Regions from separate parts of the Homo sapiens genome. Here regions 1, 2 and 4 are each linked to region 3. Evidence: fine-mapped expression QTL. A gene starts in region 3. Each other region holds a variant in brackets. All regions are shown on one strand. Distances are between the middles of the regions. Region 1 overlaps PRKCH (protein kinase C eta). Region 2 has its middle 23 kb from the start of HIF1A. Region 3 holds the start of HIF1A (hypoxia inducible factor 1 subunit alpha). Region 4 overlaps PRKCH (protein kinase C eta).

Region 1 (5,151 bases), 190 kb before region 3:
TCAAGCCCCAGCCTCACGCCGTGACCACTCCTTGTCTGTGAAACCCAGTTCTACAGAAGTCACAAAGCCATTGTCTTAGTCTGCTCAGTACTGCTTAGTCTGCTGCCATAATAAATACCACAGACTGGATTCCTTGAACAGAAATGTATTTCTCACAGCTCTGGAGACTGGGAATTCCAAGATCTGGGTGCTGGCCAATTTGGTTCCTCATGAGGGCTCTCTTCCTGGCTTTAAGGTGGCTGCCATCTTGCTGTGTTCTCATGCGGTGAGGGGATGGAGAGAGCACAGGCTTTCTGGTGTCTCTTGTTATAAGGTCACAAATTCCATCATGAGACCTCACCTTTGTGGCCTCACCTAGCCCCAATTATCTCCCAAAGGCCCTACCTCCAAATGCTATCACATTAGAGCTTAGGGCTTCAATATATGAATTCTGGCAGGACACAAAACATTCAGTCCATTACAGCCATTCATTCATACACGTGTTTGGGGTTTTCAGTTACATTAAGCAACATGTTTTGCAGCTACTTGGTTTGATAGTGCCAAATCTACCCGGAAATGATTTCAGCCCTAAGGAAAACAGCTCCTGCTACAGTGGAACACACAGTAGACAGGCACGAGAGAATAACCAAGGATTAGACCGAGGCGTTGTCATGCGTTTGGCTCATTAAGCCATGCATGTTAGGCTTGGAGCTCTATTTTGAGGTGTGTTGAGACCAAATCCTTCTCCTAGATCCCAGTACTTAAGCCTGGCAGGAAAAAAAGCTGAGTACACTGTGGTTTTAGAGTGTACCTTTTGATAAATAGTTTGCAGCATGTCCCTGAAAGGGGAATTTTTTCCTTTGTCTTGCAAATGTCAAATTGTACTTTTCTGTAAACTTTGTAAGTAGAAATGTGAAGTGGTACAAGTGCTCTGTTGCTTTTTGGTGAAAATGCTCACACATGATGAATTTCTCAGTTCAGTTGCAAAGAGAAGTTAGTGAAACCTAACAGGCAAACTACCCCACACCCTGGAGAACAGTGTCCTGGGGGTGTCTGGTTTGCTAGGTGTGTGGCTGGTGCAGCAATGGGAAGGTGGCGCTTTGACTGCCTGGCCCCTCACATCTTGCTCCTCCCTTTTCACTGCTCCTCTGGCCTCCAGAGTAGCCATGTAAGCCTGTGCTTTCACGTACAGAATTGCTGCTCTACCCTGTTCTTGGCATTTGCGTCAAAATTTACTGTGTTCCGCTGACAAAATTCTAGAATCTCAAAGCTGGAATGGAGTTCAAAGTTATATACCCTTCTTCTTTCAAAGCATGAATATCCAACATCTGCCGAGCAGTCATTTTTTTCCGTACTTAAACACCTATAAGCAAAGAGGAACTTATACTTCCTCCACTTTCAGGGATGTACGGCTTTTGGAAATTTCGCCTTTCTGTTGACTCAAACATTGTTTCCCAGTAGCTTCAGTTCACTGGTTCTGGACCACCTATAAGGGGTAGACTTAAAAAAAAAAATACAGCTCTCTTACAAGAAAGCTGTGGAGATATGTGAAGGCAGTCTGGGTCTCCCAATCTAGTTTACCTGTTAACAAAGGAAATACTATTAGCCTGATAGTCGCTCGTTCTGGCTGTTTCTTCAGGATTACTGATTTCTCAGTAATCCATAAACCATCCATGTTATTAGGCATTCTAGATACTTGGATCAATATCCGGTTGACTTGTCACGTTCTTCTCTTACGAAATCAGAACTATCTGAACTAGCAGTTGGCTAACTGAACTGAGTTATGTTATTATAGCTCATGTTACTTCTTTTGGGTAAGACTTGGTCTTTTTTTTTGAGACACGGTCTCCCTCTGTTGCCCAGGCTGGAGTGCAGCGGTGCAGCTCACTGCAGCCTAGAGCTCCTGGGCTCAAACCATCCTCCCACCTCAGCCTCCCAAGTATCTGGGACTACAAGTGTGTACCAGCACACCCAGCTAATTTTTGTAATATTTTTAGAGATGGGGTCTCGCTATGTTGCCCAGGCTGGTCTCAAACTCCTGGGCTCAAGCAACCCTCCCACTGTGGCCTCCTAAAGTGCTGGAATTACAGCTTGAACCACCATGCCCATCCTTGGTCTTTAACTGGATATTGTTGATGCTGACTATAGAGTAGCAAGCACGGTGGAAAGTTAATTGGTGTGGTGATCTCAAAAAAGGATATTTAAATTTTCCTGTTGTAAGGATCTCAGGAATTTAATTCCTGCATCCATTTGAGAGTATAGCTTCAGCCTGTATGTGCACATGAAAATAGAGAAGGTAGTCATAAATCCCAGAACTGAGGATCTCTGTGCACAGCCCACTCTGCAAAGGTGGATATTTTCCTCTCAAATCAATCTGTGACTTGCTCAAGGGTGAATTACCAAAGATGAAACATGGGCTGAGCACGGGGGTGGGATGGGGGAGACAAGAAAATCACCTTTGGGTATGTCAAAATAGAGGTACCTATGGAACTCCTTCAAATGGTCCATCTCAAAGTTGGAAATACCAGGATAATGTTTAAGACTGGCCACAGACTCAGGTTGATTGCATGGAACAGCATGAAAATGAGACAGTATTGGCTTACAGTTAAGAACGAGGCTTTGAAGTCAAACTTAGATTTAAAACTTACCCCCACAATGTACTGTAATTCTGTGATATTGTACCAACTCTTTAATTCTCTAAGCCTCCGTTTCTTAATCTACATGAGGATAACAGTACTATCCATTCCATGGAGTTACAGTGAAAATTAATTCATGTGGCTTGCTTATTCCAGTGTCTGACATCAGCAAATCCTCCATATACATTATCAGTTGTTAAGAAGAAAAGTGATCCAGGGAAGGAAATTAAACAATGAATTTACTTGAAAGACAGATTCCATAAGGAAATTGTTGAATAAATTATGGTTATACCCGTACTGTGGAATATTATGCAACAATTAAAAGAAAGAATACATTAGATCTACATATATTGACCTGGATGGTTTGTCCCTGATAGA[C/T]AAATAAATGAAAAAAAGAGAGATGTGTGCTCATTTTAATCCCATTAAAAAAAAAAGCAGTAGCGAAAGCTACACCAAGAGTCTCGTACGTTTCCTCATTTGTCATGGCTACATAAGGGCTTGCATCTTGAGCTCTTTTTTGTTCATTTCATTTGTTATCCCTCAATTTCTGGCACAGGGCATGGCAATATTTCTTTTTTCTTGTCTTCATTTCTGTTTTATTTCTAGCAACTGAGCCAACATTTGTCTGCAGGAATTCATGGTGGGGAGTAAGTGATGAGAAGATGGGTGGAAACACAGTATCATTTATTGACTAAAGAGCAGTGTCACTTTAATTTAATTTTAAAATGTAAATTAATGCATATACATAAAAAGGACACTTTTAGCTGTTCTAAAATGATTACAGTGAATGCTAAATCCTCTTCATACCCTTGTCCCCAGTCTCTCAATTCCTCTTCCTCAAGACATGTCCTTATATGTCCTTCCAGAAATGGTCTATGCATATGCAAGCTCTGCATTTGAATGTCTCCTGTTGAAAAACAAATGGTGGTATATTATCTACCTGAAGAACAGAGATTTTTTCCTAAGTCTTTAGAGAGATGAAATCTAAATCCTTAAAGAAAGGTAGTAGGTAGGCAATCTTTTCTTTTCTTTTCTTTTCTTTTCTTTTTTTTTTTTTTTTTCCGAGATGGAGTCTCACTCTCACTCAGGCAGGAGTGCAATGGCATGGTCTTCACTCACTGCAACCTCCACCTCCCAGGTTCAAGTGATTCTCCTACCTCAGCCTCTTGAGTAGCTGGGACTATAGCACATGCCACCACACCCGGCTAATTTTTGTATTTTTAGTAGAGACGGGTGTCACTATGTTGGCCAGGCTGGTCGCAAACTCCTGACCTCGTGATCCGCACACCCCAGCCTTCCAAAGTGCTGGGATTACAGACATGAGCCACCATGCCCATTCAATCTTTTCTTTTATCAGAAGGGTCTATGGGTGACAGTTCAAGTCCTGGAAATAATTCTGCTATCTCTTGTTGGAGAAAGTGCTGGTTTTTTCAGATCAGGCAACAGGCTTATAAACGTTTATTGCAGTTACAAGCTACAAAGAAAGATTTCTTTCCAGCACTACTGCTCCAGGTAGAGCAGTTGCACCAGTCATTATTTATAACTGGATTAAAGAGTAGCAGCACATACTTCTACCGTGGTTATAGAGTGCCTTCTGTTGTACAGAGTGGACTGCTTATTCACCAGGGAGTTCTCAAACACCTTTCTCTATGGGCGCTGTCCCAAATAATGTCAAGAGAGAAAAAATTAAAAATGAGCTCCTGCCCTCTAAGAACAGATGGGAGCAGCCCCAAATCTTGCAAATGAAGCAAGAGGGGGTATTCAGTCTTTAATCCAAGCAGCTAGAAGCTTGCCTTTCCCAAGTTCACCGAGTGAGGATTTTAACACTCCTTTGACAAAGAAATGGGGCCGAGCAGCAGAGGAAGGCAGGTGACACTGAGTCATGGAATTCACCCTTTCGAGCCCTTCCTGGGGGATGTGTGGCTCTTGGGTTGGTTCTTGAAGGAAAGGAATGAATGTAAGAGAGGAAGGGAAGCAGGCTTTTTTTTTTTTTTTTTTTTTGACTCCTACACAGAAGGTGGAATTGAGAAAAATATACTGTGGCGGTGAAATCAACTTACAAAACTGAGGAGGAAAATTTTGACAAAAGCAAACCCAAAATCTGATTACTGTGGGGCTGTCCATTTTATTGCTGCACCAAGGAGCAGGGTAGATACTATTTTGGCCTAAAGAACACTGAAATTTTGTTTTCTCATTTGCAAATAGACAGGTTCAAACCCGTCAGAGGCCGTAACTGAGTTTCCCTGTGACTGATTTGTATGTGTGTTAGTGGTTTTTTTTTTTTTTTTCCTGTAAGAATCTGGTTGAGTAATTCAGAAGGTTAAAAAACAACCAAACAGAAATAAGTGAGAAAAGTTAACTGAGGTCTGCCACATATGCCGGGAAGGTGCCCACAGACTGGCAGAATCTGTGCAGTCTTTGTCTGTTTCTGCCTATGCAAATACTAAGCCACGCTCAACAGAGCTTGAGCGTTGTATCTGTTCAACTGCCATTTAAGAAATAGGACTCTGTTCTCAACAGCTTATTCCTTGGGGTT
Region 2 (5,151 bases), 23 kb before region 3:
AGCTCATACCTGTAATCCCAGCCCCAGCTATTCAGGAGGCTGAGGTGAGAGGATCTCTTTAGCCCAGGAATTCGAGGCTGCAGTGAGCCATGATCACACCACTGCACTCCAGCCTAGAGGACAGGATGAGACTGTCTCCAAAAAAGAAAAAAAAAAAATGATACCTAGAGGGGACAGTGCAATCGAAAGCCTCTCTTTAAGATGGGAGCCATCTGAGCCTGTTTGTACGCTAAAGGGGAAAGAATCAGGGTGGAGTTTTGATAATACAGGTGAGAGAGGAGATCAATGATAGTTCTGGGTCCTTGAAGATAGGGAGACAAGAGCAGAGAGCAGAGATAAGCTGCTGGCAGCAGGAGAGACATCTCTTCCTAGAGCGAAAGAGATAAGGATGGGAGCAGATGCAGGTACATTTGTCAAGAGGAATGCAGGAAGTCAAGTGAGTTCTTGTCCAACTGCCTCCAGTTTCTATATGAAATGTTGGAAAGGACAGTTGCTGATAGGAACGGGAAGGGGACAACCCAAACAGCAAGAAAAGAGGACGGAACCACCCGGGTAATAAAATTTCCATATATACCGTGCAAGTTTACCGATTTTCATGGGATTGGAGAACTGTAGGGTAAAATGTAATTAATACTACACTAGACTATATGCAGCATAATTTAATCTTTCTTTAATGTTTTCATTGCCTGTGGATTGTTTTTACAAATATCAATTATAATTACAGTACAATCTGCTTAAAGAAGTGTGAGAGGAAGTGCTAGTTGATAGAAACTTCCGGCTGACAGAGTTCACAACGTTTTGCCAGAAACAGACATCCTTTTATACAATAGGAAAAAAACTGTTTTCTTCTACTGTACTCTCAAAACTCTATTTCTGACACCACATGTAAGGGAAAATGAAAACAGTTTTTCGTCTCTATACTCACACTTTTACAGAACACTTCTGTGACCAAAATGTGTGGGGTTTTCCCCACACCAGCCAATTCTCTGACACCAGCTGGTGTCAGAGAATTTAACTCAATTTAACTCAATTCTGACACTACTTACCTGGAAATAGTGTCAGATCCCATAGGTTAAGGGCTCAGTCTCATAAGACTGCCCCCCACTTCAGATGCCAATCACAAGTAGAGGTCTCCAGATTGCCCACAGCTTCTGTCCAACTTGGCTAAAAATTGGAGGTTCCTTTGACTTCCTCCTCAGGTTCAATAATTGGCAGTAGTGGCTAACAGAACCCAGGAAAACAGTTTACTTACTACTGCCTATTATTTCAAAGGATGTTTTGAAATATACAAATGGAGGCCGGGTGCAGTTGCCAGGCCTGTAATCCCAGCACTTTGGGAGGCTGAGGCTGGCAGATCACTTGAGGCCAGGAGTGACCATCATGAGACCAGCCTGGCCATCATGGCGAAACTCCGTCTCTACTAAAAATACAAAAATTAGCCGGGCATGGTGGTGCACGCCTGTAACCCCAGTGTTAGAAATATCGCTCAAATCCTAAGGAAATTGAACACTCGAACAAAGAATTCCTAGCCAAACAATTTTACTTCTGCGCAGAGGGGTGCCTCCTCGGCCAGTTGCCATGAGAGCACACCTGAACAAAGGGGCACGAGAGCCTTTATTCCTGACGCAAGTCAGTCCTGCCCCTGTACCCTTTCCCCATTGGCCGGGGTCGGGTTGTACAATCTAAACTAATTCCGGTTGGCTAAACATTTGATTTTTTTAGATAAGGTGGGCACGTAAAAGAAAGTGGAGAGGAAGGGGAAGGGGTGTCTGTAATGAGCTAGAAAGTTAGTCCTCTTTCCAAATAAGGAAAGGAATGTGAGCTGGTACTGGTAACGCCTGGTACTGTGGCGTGCCTGGGCATCTAACAAAGGAAAAAAGGAGAAAAAAAGTGGGGGGGGGGGAGGGTACTATGAATTAAAGAATAAAAGATTGATCAGACTATTTGAAGAGAAACCTCATCATATCCCACACCAGCTACTCAGGAGGCTGGGGCACAAGAATCGCTTGAACCCGGGAGGCGGAGGTTGCAGTGAGCTGAGATCATGCCACTGCACTCCAGCCTGGGCGACAGAGTAAGACTCTGTCTCAAAAGAAAAAAAAAAGAAAAAAAAAAATACACACACACACACACACACACGCACACACACAAATGGACAGCCAGATGACAAGACATGTAGGGCAAGGTTCAGAAGGGTCTCAAGCACAGGAGCATCTGTCCCTGTGGACTTTGGGTGTGCCACCCTATCATCATGTGGATGTGTTCACCAACCCTGAAGCTCTCCAAACTCCATAGTTCAGTTTTTCTTTTTTTTTTTTTTTTTTTTTTGAGATAGGGTCTTACTCTGTCACCCAGGCTGGAGTGCAGTGGTGTGATCTTGGCTCACTGTAGCCTCAACCTCCTGGACCAAGTGATCCTTCCACCTCAGCCTCCCAGGTAGCAAGGACTACAGGCGTGCACCACCA[G/C]GCCTAGCTAATTTTCGTATTTTTAGCTAGACCTGGTCTCAAACTCCCGGGCTTAAGGGATCTGCCCACCTTAGCCTCCCACAGTGCTGGGATTGCAGGCACAAGCCACTGCACCTGGCCCGTAGTTTTTACGGAGGCTTCATCACATAAGCGTGATTAATTATTAACTCAATCTCCAGCCCCTGTTTCCTTCCAAAAAGATGGAAGGTGGGGCTGAAAGTTCCAAGTTTCAAATCATGGCTTGGTCTTTCTGGTGGCCAGTCCCCACCCAGGAGCCTGCCGAGTGCCACCTTGTTAGAGCAAAAGATGCTCCTATGACCCAGGAATTCCAAGAGATTAGAAGTTCTGTGTCAGGAACCGGGGTCAATGACCAAATATTAGAACAAAAGATGCATGTAGCACCCCAATGGCTCATGAAATTACAAGGGTTTCAGGACCTCTGTGCCAGGAACAAAAGCAGAGACCGAATATATATATATTTTTATTATGTCACACCTTCCTATGCCTAAAAATTCTCATCTGCAAACCAAAGCACTTATCAATTCTTGTGATTACTGTGTGATGGGGCCTTTAGGGCACCTTTGCGTTGTGCTGGAGGCTCTTGTCTCAGAGCAGTGTTTTTGAGGATGTTTTCTTAAGAAGTATTCAAAGAATTTCCTGAATTAACACAGCTTCCACTTAGGACGCCATACAGTTTCCCTGGGCTAAGAATCCATCGATGTGACTTTCAGTAATCTCCCTCCAAAATACCACAGAATATAATTTAAGTCAGATTGGGTTTAGGTCAGTCTCTTCTATAAATTATATTGTACGAATAATTGTGAGGTAGAAAGTTGAAAAGCTCATTCTATGAGAAGGAATAATGAACCTATAAGCCTTAAATCTAAAAATTAGCAAAAGTGTTTAATGACAACATTGTTTTAAGACTACTATAAGTCTAGGGAGATCCTCTCTCTCTTTTTTTTTAACAGGACTTACACAACGAATACTTTCAGCCATAAGCGACCAAAGCTTTTATTTTTAAAACAAAATAAATGAAATAAACAGAAGAAAGAACAGATAATTTCTGCCCTTTCACCTCCACCTCCTCACCCTATTTTCCCCTAAAATTCCATCAACTTTCTACTTAGTGATAAATACTTACACTTTTCTGCAAATCTCTGCTACTGTACTATAAATATTTGTTGTGCTTGTTCAGGCAAACCACATTTTTTAAAAACAAAAGAGACTTATTAAGACATGATTGAATCAGTAAACATTTATTGGCCAGGTGCGGGGGCTCATGCCTGTAATCCCAACACTTTGGGAGGCTGAGGCAGGCGGATCACCAGGTCAGGAGTTCAAGACCAGCCTGGCCAACACAGTGAAACCCCATCTCTACTAAAAAGACAAAAAAAAAAATTAGCCGGGCGTGGTGTTGCGCTTCTGTAATCTCAACTACTCAGGAGGCTGAGGCAAGAGAATTGCTTGAACCCAGAAGGTGGAAGTTGCAGTGAGCAGAGATCACACCGCTGCACTCCTGCCTGGGTGACATTGTGAGACTCCATCTCAAATAAAACAATAACAACAACAACAAAAATTTATTTTACCTGAAGTTAACAATAATAATGTCATATGCAAAGTTTGCCATTTTTAAATTTTTATTTTACTTTAAGTTCTGGGATATATGTGCAGAACTTGTAGGTTTGTTACATAGGTATACACGTGCCATGGTGGTTTGCTGCACTTATCAACCCGTCATCTAGGTTTTAAGCCCCACATATATTAGGTATTTGTCCTAATGCTCTCCCGTTCCTTTCCCCCCGTCTTCCGACGGGCCCCAGTCTGTGATGTTCCCCTCCCTGTGTTCATGTGTTCTCATTGTTCAATTCCCACTTACGAGTAAGAACATGCGTGTTTGGTTTTCTGTTCTTGTGTTAGTTTGCTGAGGATAATGGTTTCCAGCTTCATCCATGTCCCTGCAAAGGACATGAACTCATTCTTTTTTATGGCTGCACAGTATTCCATGGAGTATATAGGTCACATTTTCTTTATCCAGTCTATCATTGATGGGCATTTCTGTTGGTTCCAAGTCTTTGCTATTGTAAATACTGCTGTAATAAACATAAAAGTTTGCCACTTTAACCACCTGGTTGCAGCTGGTGGTAACCAGGTTACTACGGTTGGTTTGTTGGGGAATTTTTTAATTATTTTCTAGTGTAGTTTCTGCAATTGGCTTTCCTGGAAACATACTTGAAACCCAAAGTTGCATGCCAAAGATTTATTGGAGAGATCTCTAAGGAGATATATTTGCAAAGAGGAAAGGAAGACAATATTGGGCAGAGGGAGAAGCCAGTCCCCGGTGCATTTGCAACTGAGACTTTAGCCAATCCGGCAGGCAGCTCTGGAATGGAGATGGCCCTTCTGAGTTGTCTCAGATTGAGGTAATCTGGCTATGTGTTTGTACCTGCACATGAGCTAGGCTTTGTTTGCAGGTCACCCCATCGCAGTGGAGATAGAGTTTGGCATGGTCGTTTTCTACGGCAAAGGGCAGAGAGAGACACAGCTGCAAGCTATCAGTTAATATTCCCAGCAGCTGGGGTTAGATGAGCCAACCCTGAAGAGATTCTGTGGAGCACCACAGAATTCACCAAAGCCTGCCACCACACCTCACAATTCCACTTGTTTCTTACAAGTTTGCCCCATC
Region 3 (5,151 bases):
AATGATCCAAAAAAATTTTAAATGACTTAGATTTACTGTTACAAAATGCTTGTCTTTTGATGTCACAAACATTATATACTATAATCACTGGCCAGAGATAATTGCTATAAGTATAATGAAAAGGGAAATGATGGAAGATCTCTGCAGCTATCCTCATAAATGAGGGTGGGAACACGATGGGCAGTTCCAAAGTTGAAAATAGAGAATATATGTGGATTTATATTAACATAATTGGTATTCTTGGATAGTTAAAAATGGCTAAACTGTAGGAGAAGCCCGAGTAATTACTGTTAACAGAGGAATAAATTTGAGGGCAATAATAATGATGATAGGCCAGGCACTGTGGCTCATGCCTGTAATCCCAGCACTTTGGGAACCCGAGGCGAGCGGACCACCTGAGGTCAGGAGTTCGAGAGCAGCCTGGCCAACATGGTGAAACCTCGTCTCTACTAAAAATAGAAAAATTATCCGAGTGTGGTGGTGCGTGCCTGTAATCCCAGCTACTTGGGAGGCTGAGGCAGGAGAATCACTTGTACCTGGGAGGCGGAGTTGCAGTGAGCCGAAATCGCGCCACTGCGCTCCAGCCTGTGGGCCAGAGCGAGACTCCGCCTCAGAATAATAATAATGATAATAATAATAACGCCACCAACAATACTAAGAGCTAACATTTACTGAGTGCTTACTATGCACCAGATATTGTTCTAAGTATACATTTATTATCTCATTTAACCATCCATAATACTGTGGTATAGACACTTTTATATCCATTTTATAAATAAGTAAACTGAGTTATGGAGAGATTAAACGACTTGCCAGTAAGATTCAAAGCCTGTGTACAAGCTCACGCTTGATTCTGGAGCCAGTGTTCTTAACACAGTATCTTGAGAATGTTAAACTAAAAAGTTTTTAATTTACAGTATTCTTTCCACAATTAAAAAAGAAATTATGAGTAATTATTTTTAGTTCTTTCTTCTCTTCAGGCATTTCCCATGGTTCTTTTCAAGACATAATACATATCATTTAGTGTTGTAGATCTGAAAAAACAAAAGTAGCGTGAAGATCAAAAATTTTCTAAAGAGACGGAGTCTCGCTACGTTCCCTAGGCTGGAACACCCAGGCTTCTCCAGCCTCACACCTCTGAGTAGCTGGAACCACCCTGTCCGCTAAGGTCAATGTTTAATCGTATCTTTGTAGGTCTACTGACCAGTTAAAAAGAGGTGCTGTATACATTGGTTGTTGTCTTGTCAGAGTTTGATGCTTCTATATAGACCATTGTTTTTACATGCTAATACAATTGAAAGCCACTACAGATATTTATATTTACAACCCAAAGCTAGGTTTTAACAAGAAACTCATAAGGCAAAGGTGAGAAGTAAAATAATTTAGCGCCAAGTGGAGATATATGTGCAATGCTACTTTGTTGGGCTCAAAACATATTTTTCTTTTAGAAGACTGACAGGCTTGAAGTTTATGCCTCCAAAGACAAAAGTGATTATGTTTTGTTTAGTAGCTTGCAAAGTTGCCAAAGGCCATTTTTTCTACTCTTTCCCTGAAATTGGTTTATATGCTTATTAAAGTCATTTATACCTATTTGCAAATGCTTAACATAGTTTCAGATTTTAAGATTTCCCTGCAACTTTATTTCCCTTGAAGTTTACAGCAACAGGAGTTCATTTTTATTTTTAATTGCATTTATTCAGTAAGTAAACTCCGCCACAGAAAAACTTAGTAGACAAGGTGAGTTCCCCTGTGCTCCGTGGCAAAGAGTGCGGTGGGTGACATTGACCCATGGTTAGGTAATCTGGTAAGGAAAGACCCCGTTGTAACACATCTGAGCAACGAGACCAAAGGAAGGGCTTGCTGCCACGAGGCGAAGTCTGCTTTTTTGAACAGAGAGCCCAGCAGAGTTGGGCGGCAATCGTGCCCAGCACTGAGGCCGAGGAGAAAGAGAGCAGGAGCATTACATTACTGCACCAAGAGTAGGAAAATATGATGCATGTTTGGGACCAGGCAACCGAAATCCCTTCTCAGCAGCGCCTCCCAAAGCCGGGCACCGCCTTCCTTCGGAGAAGGCGCAGAGTCCCCAGACTCGGGCTGAGCCGCACCCCCATCTCCTTTCTCTTTCCTCCGCCGCTAAACACAGACGAGCACGTGAGCGTCGCAGCCCGTCCCAGCTGTGCCTCAGCTGACCGCCTCCTGATTGGCTGAGAGCGGCGTGGGCTGGGGTGGGGACTTGCCGCCTGCGTCGCTCGCCATTGGATCTCGAGGAACCCGCCTCCACCTCAGGTGAGGCGGGCTTGCGGGAGCGCGCGCCGGCCTGGGCAGGCGAGCGGGCGCGCTCCCGCCCCCTCTCCCCTCCCCGCGCGCCCGAGCGCGCCTCCGCCCTTGCCCGCCCCCTGACGCTGCCTCAGCTCCTCAGTGCACAGTGCTGCCTCGTCTGAGGGGACAGGAGGATCACCCTCTTCGTCGCTTCGGCCAGTGTGTCGGGCTGGGCCCTGACAAGCCACCTGAGGAGAGGCTCGGAGCCGGGCCCGGACCCCGGCGATTGCCGCCCGCTTCTCTCTAGTCTCACGAGGGGTTTCCCGCCTCGCACCCCCACCTCTGGACTTGCCTTTCCTTCTCTTCTCCGCGTGTGGAGGGAGCCAGCGCTTAGGCCGGAGCGAGCCTGGGGGCCGCCCGCCGTGAAGACATCGCGGGGACCGATTCACCATGGAGGGCGCCGGCGGCGCGAACGACAAGAAAAAGTAAGCCCATTCCCTCGGCCCGCCGCCTTCTCCCCCGGCGACCCCGCCCGCCTGCCCGCCCTGGGCTCCTGGGCCGGCCTCGGCGTTAATGGGATTGGGGGGGGCAGCCTTTTTGTTTCTGCTGCTGCTCCCCTCCCCTCTCTTCCCCCAACCTCGCCGGCCGGGCTCCCCCGCTGTCCACGTCGCCATCTTGTCGTGGGGGGTGGGAGACGCCTCGAAAGTGCTTTCAGGGGCCGGGGTCTGAGCCCTGCTTGCCCTCCCCGCCGGCCGTGGGGGCCTCGCGCCGCCCACCTACCCGCCTCAAAAACCCAGCCTGCTCTGTGGCCCCATCCGGAGGGGACTTTACCCAGCCTGAAAACCCCGGGAAGAGAAATGAGCTGCAGCTCGGTAGCCGCGGTTTGCACCCGGAGCTTCCGCTCCTTCCCGCCCCCATCCTCTCCAGTTCCATTGAAAACTCGGCCCTGGGGCGGACCCTGCACGCTGGTCCTGGCTTTCCAGTGGACTTGGGGCCTTGAGTTCCCGACTGAGGGACTCGCGTGGTCGGATGCGATCTTGTCCTGTAGTTGTCCAGCCGTCGCGGGTGTCTTTGCCTTTGTGCATTAGGGATTTGCCGCGATGGCCTTAAGATGCGAACTTTTTAGTTTGCACGTGCAGGTTTTGTTTCGTTTTAATCGCCTTGAAAAACTTGCCTAGACTGAGAGTCAGAGTAATGGGAATTTAGGGAAATGGCAACATTTTAAAGAGAACTTCAGAATTGGATACTTGAGTTCATATCACCTGTCACGAGAACGCAGATATTATAAATGAATATATGCCTCATTCATTCTTCAAATAATGAAAATGTAGGGGCTGGTTAAATTTAGGCAGTTTTAATGATACTGAAAAAAGTATATGATGAGTGAATGAAATGCGGCACTAAAATGTTGCAAAAATTTTCGAACTCTGTCTCATTTTCCTGAAATTGAAGTATATTAAAGGAAAACCGTCAACATATATCTAAAGTAAGTAATCACTCGGTTAGAACTTAATGCAAGTTTTATAAATCACCTTGAAGTTTGAGTCTAAGGGGTACATTAGAGATTAAGAATTGTGAGTTGGACCAGTGGTGTTAAGAGCGGACTCCCCCATCCCCCAACACACACACAATTTTGCCCACTTTGGCATTTTAACTTTTAAGGAAATCACTTAAGGAATTGAAGATTTAGAGTAAGAGTTTTGGTTAGTAGACTGGCTTTGCTGTTAAATCCTTCCACTCTTCTGGCAGAGAGATTAATTTCCCTAATCAGTATCAGCAGAAGATAAACTTGTTTATATTCCTGCTGTTTTGTAGATCCCTTCTCCTGGTCCTTCTTCAATAGAATATTAAATTCTTAGTTTGTATACAGCAGAGAAGGTCACTTATAAAATTCAAAAAGTGAGCAAACAGGTCTAGATTAATTCCAAGAGTTACCAGGAATTAATTGCAGTTTATTTTGCGGAGGTGATTACAGTGCTTTTGATGAAATGATAAAGCTGCTATATTGTAAACCTAAGGCAGATTACCTCTGTGTAGTGCCAGTTTTCTATCCTTATTATATATTGAATCATACTTAATACAATGCATTAAATTATGTACCACTTTTTTTATATACAGTATCGAACTCATTGTTTTGCCATTCATCCGTTCAGAATATCAGAAGCAGTTTTGAAACGAATTAATAAATTAGCTACTGTTCATCAGCCCCAATTCTAAATAAGCTCTTAGATTTTCCTCAGCCCATCTGTTACTTTCAAAATTTTCTCATTTGAAAACTTGGCAACCTTGGATTGGATGGATTCATATTTCTTAGTATAGAAGTTCTTGATATAACTGAAAAATTAAGTTAAACACTTAATAAGTGGTGGTTACTCAGCACTTTTAGATGCTGTTTATAATAGATGACCTTTTCTAACTAATTTACAGTTTTTTGAAAGATAACTGAGAGGTTGAGGGACGGAGATTTTCTTCAAGCAATTTTTTTTTTCATTTTAAATGAGCTCCCAATGTCGGAGTTTGGAAAACAAATTTGTCTTTTTAAAAGAAGGTCTAGGAAACTCAAAACCTGAAGAATTGGAAGAAATCAGAATAGAAAATGGGTATGGTTATGATACTGTAGATTTAACGCAGGACATTTCATGTTGTTCCTAGTTATAGGGGCTGAACTTATTTAATAGCACGTGCATTTTGATTTTTAGATTTTTAAGGGAATGTCAAGAGAGTAATGATTCTGTTTCAGGCTTCAGGCCAGACTCCTTCAGAGTTTTCCAAAACAAATAATTACTGAATCATTAAAGTAAAATTTCTGAGAATAGATATTCCTTAATTTCCTTCATTAACTTTGGCCATTAAAAGTCAAGAAGCTCTCTCATTTATTAGCAAACTTTTCTC
Region 4 (5,151 bases), 200 kb before region 3:
GAGTAGGCTGGGAAGGAGGCAGTCATCAAGTCAGTTCTCCCAAGGGGAAAAAAAGAAGACTATTCATTCTTTTGTCCTGGGCTTCTTGGCCGATTGGAAGGCCAGACAGTGCTCATGAATAATTTACTCATGGTGTTGACTTTTTTCCGGAGTCAAGCCCTACAGAAAAGTAAGGGAAACAAAGGGGCATGCATCCCATTGACCAGACATCTTTCAGCATGTTTCATCAACTGTATTAAAGGGAAACTCAGCTGTCATTGACATTTCAACCCCAAACTCCTGAAGCCAGCCAGCACACATTTGATTGGCTGTTTTTGACAAAGTGTGGAATACTGTATCTGAAATATGTTGGGTGAGGAATAGTTTATAGAAGGGCACAGTTTAAATTTCACTTCCTCCTCACCATGTTACCCCTGGGCACACAGCACTTTCCAACACATGCTTTTCGACTCATGAGTCTGACTGCTTTGTGCCTTATGCAGCTGTTGGCATGCTGGGTGCACGGTAATTAGTGTTTACCCTGAAAGCTCCAAATGCTTCCCGTGGTATTTCGCCATCCCATTTTGCAGATGTGGCCCACAGAGGAAGCTTTTGCCCCACAGAGGCTCACTGCCAACTCTGACATGCCGCCTTTTACTCCCATGATTACGTGGCACATGAACTTTTCAACTTTGAGCTGCTGATTTCTCCTCAGATTGAGAGAAAAATGTCTACTTAATTTGACTCTTTTAAAAATTCAGAATTTGGGAAGAGTAGCAATCTCACTCGCAAGATTAAGCCCTGTTAAGCTAGTCTCTGAACATAGTTGGGGGATCTGTGTGAATATACCGATCACCAACATCATCTAGCTCTTGTTTCTCAAGAATCATGAGGGTCCACAGGTGCCTCGCTGACTCCAGATAACTCAGCTGGGCATAGCCTTGCTTGGCAAGTGGTCTCCTCTGTGAGCACCACTTCCTGGTCTAAGAATTCACAAGTGATCCGTTTCCAAATGAATTTGTGTGTTGGGGCCAGGCACAGTGGCCTATGCCTGTAATCCCAGCATTTTGTGAGGCCAAGGTGGGCAGATCTGTTGAGTCTAGGGGTTCAAGACCAGCGTAGGCAACATAAGGAGACCCTGTCTCTATAAAAAATACAAAAATTAGGTGGGCATGGTGTAGTGCACACCTGTGTAGTCCCAGCTACTCGGGAGGCTGAGATGGGAGGATCACTTGAGCACGGGAGGTGTAGGTTGCAGTGAGCCAAAATTGCACCACTGTACTCCAACCTGGGTGACAGAGTGAGACCCTGTCTCAAAAAAACAAAAACAAACAAAAAAAAATGGTGTCTTGGGCCAGTGATGGATTTTACATGCCTGAGTTACTGTGCACTCTCTCTCTCTCCCTGCAGTTCTTCCCCTCTGGAAAACTGTGGCAATCTCTCTCTGATTCCCACCTCCTAGGACCTCTCTTACTCCTCAGTATTTCTTATCAGCAGACTTTGAGTCCCCAGATGTCTTTCATTTGAGCCTGGAGTTTTGGGCTCTTACTGTCACCTCACCTCTATTGGAATTCAGTTCTGTATTTATATTCATTCTACTCATTCTAGTGAGGAAAATCTTTTTAGATAAAGATGAAAGTAAAATTTAACAGCTCTCTTTTCCCTTTGTCATCTGCTGGCATTATTCCTTCTGCTGCAAGAAGTAGGTCTCTTCTCTCTTGATTTGCGTACTGCAGAGACTACTACAAATTGTCATTTGTTGTTTGTATAGTCCTTGTTTATTCAGTACATGCCAGCCATGGGAATGCTCAGTATATTAGTAACTTTCACATCAGACTTTGGCTGTGAGCCCTCACCTGGGACTGATACTGGCTCTTTGAGCTTTTTAGTCATGTGCTTGTCTCTTCTCTTACTTAGCTTGTCATGCCTTGCTGTGCCATGGTGGCCTCATTCAGTGACTGCTCTTCAACTCTCACCAGAAAGTGACCACCATTCCTGACTTCCAAGATCCTTCTTCAAGGATATGATGGAGAGCTCAGAGCTTTCCAGCTTCTTAGAGTAGCTCAGCATTTCCCTCAAATGGGGTCTTCCCTTTTCCCGTAGTGAAACTCATCAGCCACTGTTCTGCACCCTTGCATGGCCTCTGGAGATCTTTTAACAAGTATTTGTTGAGCGTCACCCTTCTGCCAAGGATATGGATGTAATGGTATGAGCAAAAACAAAAATACTCGCCAGTGGAGGGTATGATCCAGTGAGGGAGAAAGATGTCAATCAAATGATTATACCAATAAAAAGTAGCAACCATGACTAGTGCTATGAAGAGGAGAAATACAATGCAGTGAATGAGAACCTAGAATAGGGTGATTCTATCCAGTTAGGGAAAGATGGAAGATTTTTATAAGGAAGTGACTCTTGGGCTGAGGTCACGGTAAAGAGGGAAGGAAGGAACATTTGAGACAGAAGAAACAGCAAACGCAGATAGATGCCCAGTAACAGGAAGGAGTGTGGCAAGGTCAGGGGTTTTTAGAGCAGGCCAGCCTGGCTGGAGTCTAGGAAGCGTATCTTACTTCACTTGGCATTTTATTATCCTACAGTGTTCAGTCAGCTGATGACTTCAAGATTTTATTAAACACTCCTTGTAAATAATTTATTTGAAGGTTAGGTAAGGCCGGTCATGTTGCCAATCCCTGGAGGAGCCATCTATTCACAGTGAGTTCTCTGTGTCCAGGTCTGTGCATTTATACTCAACAATGGGTTTATAAAATATTAGAGCCAGAGGAGACCTCAAACGTTGCTAAGGGCCAAGTTATCTTTTACAGATGAGGGACTTCAGGTGTGAAACGTCCAAAAATTGTTTCTCATAGTGGATATTCTCTTCGGATGACTCATCTGCTGTTTGCTTTCCATCTCCAGGAAAACAAAAATATGGCTAGAAAATTTTGTTTCAGTCTTCAACTTACAGCTGGCATGAAGAGCAAACCAAGACATTTTGAGGCATTCAACCCTGTTTACTCCATTGCAGTGAGAAAAATCCAGTTGAGATCAGAACATATTTCCTGAG[C/T]TGCCACCTAGTGCCGGATGTTGCATTAGGAGGTGTAGATACAAGATGAGTAGATGAGATGTCTGCCCTTTGAGGCGCTTTCTGTGGGGTGAGAGAGATAGCCATTAATAAGTCATGGCAGCTGGGTTCCAAAATTGGAGTTTTCCCAGGGTATCTTGGGAGCAGACAGAATGGCCACTTGCCCTAAGATGGATGTTCAGGCAAACTTCCTGGAGGAGGTGATGCCTGAGCTGAGTGTGAAGAGTTAAAAGCTGAACAAAGATAAGGAGGGTGTTTAGGTAGGGGAGCAAGTTTGAGCAAAGCAGAGAAGTGTGGTGAATGTGTAGTTAAAGTGGAAAATGACAGGAACTTTGGTAGCACTGGAGCCTGAAGTTGGAGGCATGGGAAGAGGGAAGGCTAGAGGAGGCTGCAGAAATGAAGTATTAAGCACTTACTGTTCTTGAGATGTTTGAATTCTGGGTCACTTAGGACTTTGCTCCATTGCCTATCACAGGAAACATAAAAATGACAGTGGCTTAAGCCAGATGGAAACATAGTGCTCTCTCACATGAAAAGCCTGGAGGTAGGTAGTCCAGCCCCGCCATGGAAGCTCCGTGGAGTCATTTGCAACCCAGATTTCTGTGCTTTCTGTTCTGCTGTAGACAGGGTCACGTCCTTGTCTAAATGGTTGCTGAAGATCTAGGAATCATCTCTCTATTCCAATTCCATGTAGTAAGAAGGGCTAGAGGGCATTCCTCCAAACTGAGTCAGCTCCCTTTAAGGGGCCTCCTGGAATTCCACACAGTACTTACCATGGAATTGGCCAGAACTTGATCATATGGCTGAGTCTAGCTCCAGTGAAAGCCAAGAAATACAGTATTACAAGTGGCCATGTTCCAGCTAAAAATCAGCATTCCATTATTAAGAAGGGAAAGAATCATTATTTGATAGAAAACTTGCAGTGTCAGACACAAATTCCATGCCAGGGAGTCTGGGCTTTATGGAGCAGGTAACCTTTGAAGAATTCTCAGCAGGTCTTATGACATGAGTGGATTTATATTTTACTTTTACGTGCGGGTGGGGGGCATGGCATGTGTGGACATACCCATGGTAAGCAGCAGCCAGGTTGCAAGGGAGAGGTTCATTTTGAGGCAGTTGCAGAGTTCCAAGTAACAAGATAATGAGGACCTGAACTAAGACAGTGATGGTAGGGCTGATGAGAAAGGCATAAGAGATAATAGCAAGTAAAGCTGATAGGACTTAGTATTTGGGTGGATTCAGGGTAAAAAAGAAACCGGAAATCATTTCCAGGTGTTTAGCTAGAAGGTTGAGTGGATGGCAGTGCCATTAGCTAGGAGAGATCATGTGCCTAGGAAGAAGTCTAGGCAAAAGAGGAAGAAGTTTTAGAAAGGTTGTATGACAGGTGCCTGAGGTATACTCCAGTGGAGATGCTCCATGGATAGGGGCATAGGAGTCTGAAGCTCAGTAAAGAGGATGGGCTGAATTAAATATTTGGAAGTCATCAGGACATAGCTATTAGTTGAGACCACGAGACTGAATGAGATCACCCAATAGGAGTCTCTTAAATGGAACAGTGTGAGTCAAGGACAGAACCCTGGGGAACCAGACTCCATTAGAAATCTGCCTAAATTTGGCTCCAGGGTTATAGAAACAATTGGTATGTTCATCATTTAGAGTAAGTATCCCCAAAGTGCCAGTGTATTAAAAATATAATTCCATAAAAGTATAGAAAAAGATCACTTACTTTAGAGTATGTGTGTGACGCTACATATATTCTTCCTACTGAAAGAATGCTGGACATGGTTTTCAGAAGCCCTGCATGCTAGACCCAGCCCTGGTCCTGGGGATGTGGGCAGGTTGCTGAATGCCCCTAGCCCTTTGGCCCATCTGTACAGTGGAGGTGCCATTGACACAGCTTCCCAGCAGGGTCCTTGTAAAACTCAAATCAGATGGAAGTGGAAATGCGAATGCTTTTTGGAACATGCCGTGTCAATATAAGAGGTTATCTTTGCATATGTGCTGTCACCTGATTTGGGTTTTCTTGGTATCCATAGGCATAGGCAGCAATTATTCTCAAGACACTGCCTGAATAACAGGTAATTCTTCATAGA

What was found. PIP is the estimated chance that this variant, and not a neighbour inherited with it, causes the effect.
Region 1: its variant is the best candidate, but not a certain one, in a credible set for the expression of HIF1A in whole blood (TOPMed, PIP 0.87).
Region 2: its variant is the best candidate, but not a certain one, in a credible set for the expression of HIF1A in whole blood (INTERVAL, PIP 0.83).
Region 4: its variant is the best candidate, but not a certain one, in a credible set for the expression of HIF1A in whole blood (INTERVAL, PIP 0.54).

Annotation. Positions count from the first base shown.
Region 1 is chr14:61,498,407-61,503,557 of GRCh38, forward strand. The region is part of intron 10 of PRKCH (protein kinase C eta); the gene reads left to right. Among named protein-coding and RNA genes, the nearest start is that of PRKCH-AS2, 45 kb to the right of the region's middle. The variant C/T (reference allele first, on the strand shown) is at 2,994.
Region 2 is chr14:61,670,394-61,675,544 of GRCh38, forward strand. No RefSeq gene overlaps it. Among named protein-coding and RNA genes, the nearest start is that of HIF1A, 23 kb to the right of the region's middle. RefSeq lists an enhancer at 1,004-1,083. The variant G/C (reference allele first, on the strand shown) is at 2,466.
Region 3 is chr14:61,693,096-61,698,246 of GRCh38, forward strand. It overlaps HIF1A (hypoxia inducible factor 1 subunit alpha), which reads left to right and starts at 2,418. Exons shown (of 15, transcript NM_001530.4): 1 at 2,418-2,744. The coding sequence starts at 2,710. HIF1A-AS1 (HIF1A antisense RNA 1) reads right to left here and starts at 2,728. Exons shown (of 2, transcript NR_047116.1): 1 at 2,612-2,728. RefSeq lists an enhancer at 1,737-2,106 and silencers at 2,177-2,476, 2,777-2,876.
Region 4 is chr14:61,489,624-61,494,774 of GRCh38, forward strand. All of the region lies in intron 10 of PRKCH (protein kinase C eta), which reads left to right. Among named protein-coding and RNA genes, the nearest start is that of PRKCH-AS2, 53 kb to the right of the region's middle. The variant C/T (reference allele first, on the strand shown) is at 3,041.